Regions from separate parts of the Homo sapiens genome. Here region 1 is linked to region 2. The links come from fine-mapping of genetic effects on gene expression. A gene starts in region 2. The other region holds a variant in brackets. All regions are shown on one strand. Distances are from middle to middle.

Region 1 (5,369 bases), 54 kb before region 2:
GCTCAGCGTGGGACATGTTGAGTGTGGGACGCCTGTGGGACATCCCAGTGGAGATGGCCAGAAAGCCAATGGCCAGAAGTGCAGGTCTTGACCTCTGGAAATAGGTCAGCCAGGGCCAGCACCTCCGAGAGACATCTGCAGAGCGCAGCGGCAGACGAGGCCATGCAAGCCACAGGGCCAGACAGGGACAGAAGTGGAGGGGTGACCCCCGGGGGCGGGAGAGAGGTGTGTTTTGGCAGAAACCTAAGCCACAAAAAGAGTCAATGGAGACGAGCCCTAAGAGGGGAGCAAAATGCCGCTGGAGAGACGGGGGCAGGCACCACAGAGCTGCGGCCCACGTCTCCGGGACTGCCCACAGGGACGTGAAGGCTGGGGCAACACTCCAAATACCCTAGAGGACCCTGCTTCACCAAGCATTAACCTTCGAGACGCCAAATTGTGGGGTGGCCTGGGAGTCCCGGGGAAGTGCTGGGATGACCAGGGGCTAGAAGGCAATTGGGATACTTGGGGCAGAGGCTATTTTCCCATCGACAGGGAGTATTTCAAATGTTAACCTGTGCAGCCAAGCCCATGAACCCTGGCTGCGCCTCAGGCCTGGGGTGGGGAGCTAGAGCAGGCAGGGTGGAGAAGAGGAGCGGCTGAGGCCCGGGCCAGGCACAGAGTGCCCAGGAACGCAGAGGGGCTGAGGAGTCCAGCCCGGGAAGCCTCTGACCTGATGTAGAAACCCCTTTTGGGGTTGCTCCGCAGGGACGCAGTCCCTGAGCCCAGGCTGCTGTTCATGAGCTGTTCCCGAAGGTCGTGGATCTTGGCCTCGAATCGGCTGTACTCTGAGGAAGGACAGGGAGGTTTCTGAGCTCTGTCCCCATCCTACTGTCACCCCTGTCCTCCCCTACTGAAGCCATCAGCTGAGGAAGAGTTCTAAGGGCCATTTCAGCTCACAAGACAAGGAACTTCCGGCCTGGTACCTTCTGGTTTATACTGAGCGATGATCGTGACCGTCTGACCCGCATTCTTCAGGGCAATGGCAGCCTGCTCATGGCTGGCATTTCGGAGGTCCACACCGTTGACCTAGAGAGAGGACGACAGGCTGTGTCACCAGAGACAGGAGGCAGCACTTCTGGGTCCAGGTGGAGCAGGGAGTGGTCCCGCAAGAGGACTCGGCTGCAGCCCATCCAGGCCCCTCCCCAAGAGCTCTGCGCTCTGCCCTGTGGGGAGGGGGTGGTGCAGGTAGGGGCAGGCCTTCCCTCACCGACAGGATCTGGTCCCCCTTCCGCAGCTCCCCACTGAGGTCTGCAGGGCCCCCGGCCAGGATAAAGGAGATGAAGATGCCTTCACCGTCCTCGCCACCCACGATGTTGAAGCCCAGGCCCGTGGAGCCCCGGTGGATCACAATTCGCCTCGGTTCTCGGGGAATGTCTTCCTCCCCGAGCAGGTCCTTGGCCACTGGAGAGTAGCGCCGAGGGGAAGTGGGGGTCATGGCTGTGGGGTAGTCGGTGCCCAGGTAGCTGCTGTGACTGATCTCATTGTCCAGGTGCTGGGAATAAGCTGAGGAAGACAGGGCAGAGATGAAAGTGCCTGGAGGGAAACAGCACCCGCCACCCAACCTTCTCCCCAGGGTGCCAGAAGAGCCAAAGTTAGGTGGAAGGGAAGATATTCTGCCAGAGATGCCAGGGTGGGGTGGTAAGGGGATATCAGATCACAGTGACATCAGGGGTCAGGAATTTATAGGTGACATCAGAGGCTGGTTGTCCTAGGGGATAAAGGATTTGAACGTTATATGTCCTCAGTATGCCAGGGATGGGGAAGTCAAAGGGAGCATTAATATTACGCTTTGGGGGTTTTCTCTGGGTTCCTGTGTCACTCGAATCTCTTAATCCATAAAATTCTTCTCCCTCTTTTTTCCCCCCACCTCTCTGCCATCCATTCGTTGAAAAAACTAGGTCATTTGTCTAAAAGAATTTCCCACATTCTATGAGGGAAATTCTTTTGTTTTTTTGGGGTTTTTTTGAGAAGGAGTCTCAGGCTGGAGTGCAGTGCCGTGATCTTGGCTCACTGCAGCCTCTGCCTCCCAGGTTCAAGTGATTCTCATGCCTCAGCCTCCCAAGTAGCTGGGATTACAGGCGCGCGCCACCATGCCCAGCTAATTTTTGTATTTTTAGTAGAGACAGTGTTTCACCATGTTGTCCAGGCTGGTCTGGAACTTCTGAACTCAAATGATCCACCCGCTTATGCCTCCCAAAGTGCTGGGATTACAGGCATGAGCCACCTTGACCAGCCTATGAGGGAAATTCTAACAGGGAAATTACTGCTTACCCTCCTGTGGTTTGTTTAGCCTATGCCTCTGCCCCTGTATCTCCTGTAAACTGGCAGTTCATTCTGGAGGCTTGATCAGTTTCAAGTTCAATTCAGAGTTTTTTTTAGTAACTCCTGTATACTTCATAGGTAGCGCTACGTTCTTCCTACAG[C/T]ATCACCACAGGATGCAATAATGCCTGGTTGTCTTTCTGTCAGGTAAGATTAATGGTAGGTTCAGGGTCATCAGCCCAGTCCATCCATTATCTAGCGCCCCATCAGCCTTTCAGGTAAGTTTTAGCCACACTGACAATCACCGCCTGGTTCTGATAAGTATCAAGGACTGCAAAATGGTGGTGATTGTCATTTACTAGTGGGAATTCTTCTGTAAAAAAGAAAAATCTCGACCAGGCACGATGGCTCATGCCTGTAATCCCAGCACTGTGGAGGCCAAGGCAGGCAGATCACTTGAGGTTAAGACTTTGAGACCAGCCTGGCTAACATGGTGAAATCCCGTCTCTACTAAAAATACAAAAATAGGCTGGGCGTGCTGGCTTACGTCTATAATCTCAGGTACTCGGGAGGCTGAGGCAGGAGAATTGCTTGAACCCAGGAGGCGGAGGTTGCAAGGAGCCAAGATTGTGCCACTGCACTCCAGCCTGGGTGACAGAGCGAGACTCCCTCTCAAAAAAAAAAAAAAAAAATTCCTCCAGCTTGGGTAACATGGTGAAACCCTATCTCTACAAAAGACAAAAGTTGAAAGTTAGCTGAGGCTGGGCGCAGTGGCTCACGCCTGTAATCCCAGCACTTTGGGAGGCCGAGGCAGGTGGATCACAAGGTCAGGAGTTCAAAACCAGCCTGGCCAAGATGGTGAAATCCCATCTGTACTAAAAGTACAAAAATTAGCTGGGCGCAGTGGCAGGGCCCTGTAATCCCAGCTACTCGGGAGGCTGAGGCAGGAGAATTGCTGGAACCCGGGCGGCAGAGGTTGCAGTGAGCCAAGATCGTGCCACTGCACTCCAGCCTGGGTGACAGAGTGAGACTCCATCTCAAAAAAAAAAAAAAAAAAGTTAGCTGAGCATGATGGCACTCGCCTGTAATCCCAGCTACTCGGGAGGCTGAGGTGGGAGGATCGCTTGAGCCCAGGAGGCGGAAGTTGCAGTGAGCCAAGATCACACCACTGCACTCCAGCCTGCTGGGTGACAAAGCAAGACCTGCCTCCAACAAAAAAAAAGCAAAAACAAAAACAAAAAAACAGCCCTATGTCAACCTGTTGGTTACTCTCTGAGGTAGCTGGTACATGAAAGGGAGGATAAATGCATGCCTCTCTCTGCATGCCTCTTTCCATTCATTCACCAATTTCAGAATGAATGAGATTGCCTAGCATCCTCCAATTTTTTTTTTAATTATTTATTTTTTTGGGATGGAGTTTCACTCTTGTCGCCCAGGCTGGTGTGCAGTGGTGCGATCTTGGCTCACTGCAACCTCTGCCTCCCAGGTTCAAGGGATTCTCCCACCTCAACCTCTCCAGCAGCTAGGATTACAGGCACCCACCACCACGCCTGGCTAATTTTTTGTATTTTTAGTAGAGACGGGGTTTCGCCATGTTGGGCGGGCTGGTCTCGAACTCCTGACCTCAGGTGATCCGCCTGCCTCAACCTCCCAAAGTGCTGAGATTACAGGCATGAGCCACCGCGCCCAGCCAAAATATTTTTAAGTATTATTATGATCTTAAAGATTTTAATATATTTAACGAGTTTTCACTGGACAGTAGAAGCACCTTCAGTTTGGATCCTGTGTCTTTGCTGAGACCCTATTAGTCCTGGATACCTTCCTTGCTCTCTAGTATGAAAGAAGTTAGAAGCTCATCTTACAGATTTATTGCCAAAGATTTTAAATTGGCTGGGCACGGTGGCTCAGGCCTGTAATCCCAGCACTTTGGGAGGCCGAGGTGGGGGGATCATGAGGTCAGGAGATCAAGACCATCCTGGCTATCACGGTGAAACCCCATCTCTACTAAAATATACAAAAAAATTAGCCAGGCGTGGTGGTGGGCACCTGTAGTCCCAGCTACTCGGGAGGCTGAGGCAGGAGAATGGCATGAACCCGGGAGGCGGAGCTTGCAGTGAGCCAAGATCGTGCCACTGCACTCCAGCCTGGGCGACAGAGCGAGACTCCGTCTCAAAAAAAAAAAAAAAAGAAAAGAAAAAAAAAGATTTTAAATTGACCCTTCTTCCAAGGAGCCCAGGTTCCTTTTGTTAGGTTATGGTATTTAGGAATAGTACCACATGATTTTAATATGGTTTTACAGTATTATTTCATATTTTGTAGGGGCTGCCACACCTCATTATTTGTTTCCAAAATGTCTTAGCTTTTCCACACAAATTTTTCCAGTCAAACTTTAGTGTCAACCTTCCAAGTTCCCAGTAGGGAAACAACATTAAAATTCTGATTAGGATTGAATGGAATGTAGATTAATTTGGAGCCGGTTGAGATCTTTAGCATATTAAGTTTTTCCATCCAGAGACACGGTGTGACTCCTCACCCCTTCCAGTCTTGTTTTATGTCTTTCAGTAAAGTTTTGTCATTTTCTTCATACAAATCTTACATTTCTTGTCAAGTTTCTATTTCTAATAATTTTATAGAAATTTTTTCTATGGCAAAAGGGGGCTTTTTATTCACTACATTTTCTTATTGCTGGGAAGTTACTAATTCCTGTTATTTATCTTACAAATAGCCACATTCCTTTTTTTTTTTGTCGTTTTTTGAGACAGAGTTTCACTCTTGTTGCCCAGGCTGGAGTGCAATGGCGCGATCTCAGCTCGCCGCAACCTCCGCCTCCCAGGTTCAAGCAATTCTCCTGCCTCAGCCTCCTGAGTAGCTGGGATTGCAGGCATGCACCACCATGCCCGGCTAATTTTGTATTTTTAGTAGAGATGGGGTTTCTCCATGTTGGTTAGGCTGGTCTCGAACTCCCAACCTCAGGTGACTCACCCATCTCGGCCTCCCAAAGTGCTGGGATTACAGGCATGAGCCACCGGCGCGCCCAGCCTGTTTTGGTTTTTTTTTTTTTTTTTTTT
Region 2 (5,298 bases):
CCAACATGGTGAAAACCCGTTTCTACTAAAATTACAAAAATTAGCCAGGTGTGGTGGCAGGTGCCTGTAATCCCAGCTATTCGAGAGGCTGAAGCAGGAGAATCGCTTGAACCCAGGAAGTGGAGGTTGCAGTGAGCGGAGATGGCACCACTGCACTCCAGCCTGGGCGACAAAGCGAGACTGTCTCAGAAAAGAAAAGAAAACCCCAGGAGATAGCCCCACACATATCCCAGCATCTCTGACCCTAAATTTTTCTTGGCTCCTAGCTCTTGTCTCGGGGGAATAGCGCTGCTGCCTACAGCCACAACCATCCTGTACTGTTCGCGCCCTAAATCAGGAAGTGGAAGCAGACTGGTAAAGGACAGAATGAACCCAAGGCCAGACCCATTCTCCCAAATCAGTTAAATCAACCACCACTACCACTGAGGGCTTTCTGGAAATTCTCTGGACCCCAGGTCACCCCAACCTGGGTTTATTCTTTCAAATTGTATTGAGGTATGCTAAGGGGTACAGACCACAGTACAGACCCAGAACCTGTGTCTCCGCTTACTAAATTCTCCCCAGACTCCTTCCGAGGATTCTCCCTGGTGGTGGTGAGACCACAAGAGCACATTCATTTAAAGTGCTGTTAGCTGAAGGACCTCTGACCTTGGAGAAAAGCTAAGGGAGAGGGGACCCAGAGATGCTTGGGTCCATCCGGACAGTTTCCCTCAGAATGCTAGGCTCTCCTGGAGAAGCAAACGTCCTCATTTTCAAGCCCTACAACTGCCCAGCGCTGTCCTCTGACAGGGACACCCAAACTTCAATGGTGGGCACAGCACCCACCTTGAACTCCCTCCCACAATTAAAGAGGCCCATCGTAAAAGCATCTGCTTTAGTCTTCAATAAATCCAGATACCTACACTCACACTATGAAATAAATTTTCACAGCCTTTTTGGAGGAATTCTCTTAATGGGAACCGCAGGCGTTTCTCCTTCACACCCAGGGCTTTCCCAAGTTCCCGTCCTTGTTTGTAACGTATGCCCTCCCACCCACCTCCACCCTTGACACACAAGTCTGTCTCTTCCTTGTTATAGGACCAAACACACACCGAGGTTCCAAATAGGGTCTTTCCCAAGCCCACATCCACAGATCCGGCTGTCATCAAACAGGTGTTCCCCGCCTCTTGGTTTCTTTAGCAACAACTCCAGCTTTCTTAAAGAGCGCCCCACCCACCACCTTAGCCCCCAAGAGTTGCCAAATCCTGTCCCATCTAGCCCCATCAAAACCCCCAAGGGCAAGGTTCTATTACAAGGGTCTCCCACCTCGCCCCGCTTAGGGTGCCCAATTCTCTGGCGAGAAAAGCCCCAGCCAGGATTCCCTTCCTAGGCCCAAACAGAGGCCCGACACTCCGAAAACCCCTGAGCACCACGGACAGATGTCCCCAACACCGCCAGACGTCCCCAACACCGCCAGCGCCCACCCTGGCTCACCGTGCGGATCTGCCTCCGCAGAAGGTAAATGAAGAAGCTCCAGAGCTTGGCGGCGAAGGCCACGAACGTGCGCAGCCCCAGCAGACACTGCGTCCGCATCATCCCGATGACCCCGGCACCGCCGGCCCCGGGGCCCCCGCGGCCCAGCTCCGCCAGCCCCCCGGGGGCAGCCCCCCGCCGCCGGGAGGGGGAACGGGGGCCCCGAGTGGCAGGAGAGGCTGCAGAGAGGGGCACGGAGCGGGCGGCTCAGAAAGCCACCCCTGGCGAGGGTAAAGCCCAGCGGAACGGGGAGCTGGGGGACAGGCGTGGGCAGCCCGCGGGGGCCCACATGGGCTGGGAGTGGCACCGACGGCTTCGGGGAGGTTGCGGGCCGAGACAGGTAGGGCTAGGATGGGGTCCTCCGAGACCTGGAGGGAAGGGGAAGGATAATTGGGGGAGGGGGCAGTGGGGGAGGGGGCTAGGGAAAAGGGAGGAAGGGAAAAGGGAAGGGGAGGGGGGGAAAGCAGAGAGTGGCCCGCTGCGCAGGCGCGCTAGGGGGCTGCTCGCAGGAACGGGGAGGGCGGGGGCAGCGGCGCGCAAAGGGCCGCGGCAGCGGAGAACGGGCCTGCAGAGCGAAGGAGCAGGGAAGGAGGGGGAGGGGGAGCCGGAGGGCGCAGAGCGCTGGGCCGGAGCGGCCTCCCCCTCCCCGAGCTCGGGGGTCCTTTAGCCGCTGGGGACCGGGGCTGCAGCCTCTGCAGCTGGGTTTCCCACTCTGACAGGCGCCATTTTACCGTCCAAAGGACTCCCTCTTCCTGTCTTTCCCCCTCCTCTTCCCCTTTGACACTACTTCCGGTGGTGACGTGTATTCGCTTCACCGGGACTAAGTTCCTCCTGCGCGGTCTATGGCGGGTAGGTATAAGGAAAGCCAAAAGCACTCCAAGCGAGGCTGCAGTATTGCGCACGCGCAGAAGGTGGCCGCGGGGCGGGGCCTGAGGCGAAGCAGGCCCCGCCTCAAACTGCGTGGGCGGGGAGAGTGACGTCACTTGGCCCGCGCTTAGGGCCCTCGCGGGGGGCTTGTGGGTCCTCCTCCCCCTCCCACTGACAACTGCCCCAACTGCTCTTCCCGCCCCGGTCACAGTGAAAATGTAGACGGGGTCGTTGTCCGTACGACTGTGCGCCAGGGCTCGGGGAGGGGCGCCCTCCGCGTGAGCGCCCCCCTGGGAATATTGAACATAATCACCTCTCATTCCAGACTATGTTAGGTCTTAATGGTGGGAGGACGCCCGAGTGCTCGGCCCGTTTCACCCCGAGGAGGAAGGACACTGGGTCATGACGCCATCAGAGGGCGCCAGAGCAGGGACCGGACGCGAGTTGGAGATGTTGGACTCGCTGTTGGCCTTGGGCGGCCTGGTGCTGCTTCGGGGTGAGAGCCAGAGGCACGGTGGCGGGGCGGGGGGTGCGGTTCGGGCCTGGCTGAGGGGACGGAAGTGGGCAGGAAGGGCCAGGGGTCACAGGCTAGGTGTGGAAATCGCGACGGGTTCGCGAAGGCGGTAATCCCAGCGCTCTCATACCCTTTATCCGTCCCTCGCTCTGCAGATTCCGTGGAGTGGGAGGGGCGCAGTCTCTTGAAGGCGCTTGTCAAGAAATCTGCACTGTGGTGAGTATCCCACAGTGTCTCCCCGGCCTACCCTGGATAGGGCACCTGTGCCCACTCTTTGACAATCCCTTCTCATCTCTGCCTTAGTGGGGAGCAAGTGCATATCCTGGGCTGTGAAGTGAGCGAGGAAGAGTTTCGTGAAGGTTTTGACTCTGATATCAACAATCGGTAAGTACCAGTTGGAAGAGATTTGATTAAATTTGAGACCTATAATGCTAAGGAAATTTCTTTACAACAAGCGCAGAACCTGGTATGTAGTAGCAGTTCCTTAAATATTCATTGAAGAATTGGATATGGATCTTTCAGGAGGCAAGAATTAATAAGAGGAGTGATGAGTATTTGGGGAGTCCAAAGCAAAGATCATAGAAGTCGAGAGAGAAATAGCCTGGAAATAGGGAGAACATGTGGGAAGGGTATTGCAGTAATCCGTTAATCCGGCTTCACTCTTTAAGGTACATATGTACCGAGCACCAACTATCAACCAGGTGCTGTGCAAGATACTGGAGACGGCAGTGAGTGAGACCTGTTCCTGACCTAATGAATTTTAGGGAATAATGGTAGGAAGTGATAGAGGCCTGGTTTAAGGCAGTGGCAGTAGAGATGGAAAGTTTAGAACACATGTAAAGGACTTTAGTGGGTAGAATTTCCAGGATTTATTGACTAATATGGGGGAGAAGAAAGTATTGAGATAAGGAAGTTCCTAAACCCAGCGGCATGCCTGATCAGGAGACATTAAGAACCATTAGTAGGATGCTTTCTACTTCCTAGTCCCGGCAACTCAGTGGATGATAATAGTAGTTTACATCTTATCTGTTGAGCCTCCAATTTTGCATCAGCCATTGTTGTGATAGAGGCGGTGGTGTATGTTCAGATGGCATTCCATGGCTGGGCGCGGTGGCTCACGCCTGTAATCCCAGCACTTTGGGAGGCTGAGGCGGGTGGATCACCTGAGGTCTGGAGTTCGAGACCAGCCTGACCAACATGGAGAAACCCCATCTCTACTAAAAATACAAAAAATTACCTGGGCATGGTGGCACATGCCTGTAATTCCAGCTACTCAGGAGGCTGAGGCAGGAGAATCGCTTGAACCCAGGAGGCAGAGGTTGCAGTGAGCGGAGATCACGCCATTGCACTCCAGCCTGGGCAACGAGCGAAACTCTGTCTCAAAAAAAAAAAAAAAAGCGGGCACTCCACAAGAGAAGATAGAAAAGAGATATCTGGGAAAAAAAGTTCTGCTACCTATGCCAGTCTCCCTTTCCTGAGCTGTTTTTTCTGTAGTTGTTACTTCTTGACTTAATTCTTGACTTTCTTTAAGCTGTTCTACAGGCAGGACCAAATCTCACGTCCTCTGCTTTCTCTTTTTTCACCCAGGGTGATAATCTTTAGGTGCCACACACAGGAAATATTTGATAATGGTGATAACTAACATTTATCAGGCATATACTATGTGTCAAGCACTGTGCTGAATGCTTAGAGGTTGGCATCTCATTTCACCAATGAGGCAACTCTTAGAAATAATGTATCAGTTAGCTGACCTTGGGCAAGTAGCAAAGCCAAGCTTGGAGATCAGGCTGTCAGACACCAAAGTCTGTGCTCTCAATCACTGTATGCTCTCTCTCAGTAATTATCTTTCACTAATATTTAGGATATTCATAAAAATTGAGAAAACAGCCATAAAGATCAGAGGATGAACTTTGTGATCCTCTCGGGGGAAGGGGCAATATTATATTGTGTCTTATTTTCCCTTTGCAGGCTGGTTTACCATGACTTCTTCAGAGACCCTCTCAACTGGTCAAAAACTGAGGAGGCCTTTCCTGGGGGGCCGCTGGGAGCCTTGAGAGCCATGTGCAAGAGGACAGATCCTGTTCCTGTCACCATTGCTCTCGATTCACTCAGCTGGCTGCTACTTCGCCTTCCCTGCACCACACTCTGCCAGGTCCTGCATGCTGTGAGCCATCAGGACTCTTGTCCTGGTGAGACCCCTCCTTCATTGTTTCCCCTCATACATCTCCCTCTGCCAAGGAGTGTGCCCCTTTTCCTTTCTACCCTAGAATAAACATCTGGGTTCTCCAGTCAGACCTTTTTTCATTTTTTTGACTTTTTTGTCTGTTTTTTTTTTTTTTTACTTCTCCTTAATGCCATCTACCATTTGCTTTTTTTTCTCCAAGTTATTTTTTTACTCATTTGTT

Direction of the effects. Alleles are on the strand shown, and positions count from the first base shown. SD is a standard deviation of normalised expression in the study named.
For the expression in prefrontal cortex of the gene that starts at base 2,494 in region 2, T is the low allele of the variant in region 1 and C is the other (moderate effect, 0.50 SD a copy in ROSMAP).

Evidence for each region. PIP is the estimated chance that this variant, and not a neighbour inherited with it, causes the effect.
Region 1: its variant is the best candidate, but not a certain one, in a credible set for the expression of ELP5 in prefrontal cortex (ROSMAP, PIP 0.76).

What each region holds. Positions count from the first base shown.
Region 1 is chr17:7,195,508-7,200,876 of GRCh38, forward strand. It overlaps DLG4 (discs large MAGUK scaffold protein 4), which reads right to left. Exons shown (of 20, transcript NM_001321075.3): 9 at 1,250-1,545; 10 at 966-1,068; 11 at 713-827. Among named protein-coding and RNA genes, the nearest start is that of ASGR1, 19 kb to the left of the region's middle. RefSeq lists an enhancer at 586-1,785. The variant C/T (reference allele first, on the strand shown) is at 2,466.
Region 2 is chr17:7,249,722-7,255,019 of GRCh38, forward strand. It overlaps ELP5 (elongator acetyltransferase complex subunit 5), which reads left to right and starts at 2,494. Exons shown (of 8, transcript NM_203414.3): 1 at 2,494-2,875; 2 at 3,049-3,109; 3 at 3,197-3,277; 4 at 4,862-5,082. The coding sequence starts at 2,830. CTDNEP1 (CTD nuclear envelope phosphatase 1) reads right to left here and starts at 2,013. Exons shown (of 8, transcript NM_001143775.2): 1 at 1,474-2,013. The coding sequence starts at 1,575. RefSeq lists enhancers at 1,616-2,203, 2,204-2,792, 2,661-2,880 and silencers at 1,741-1,860, 1,931-2,140, 2,911-3,150.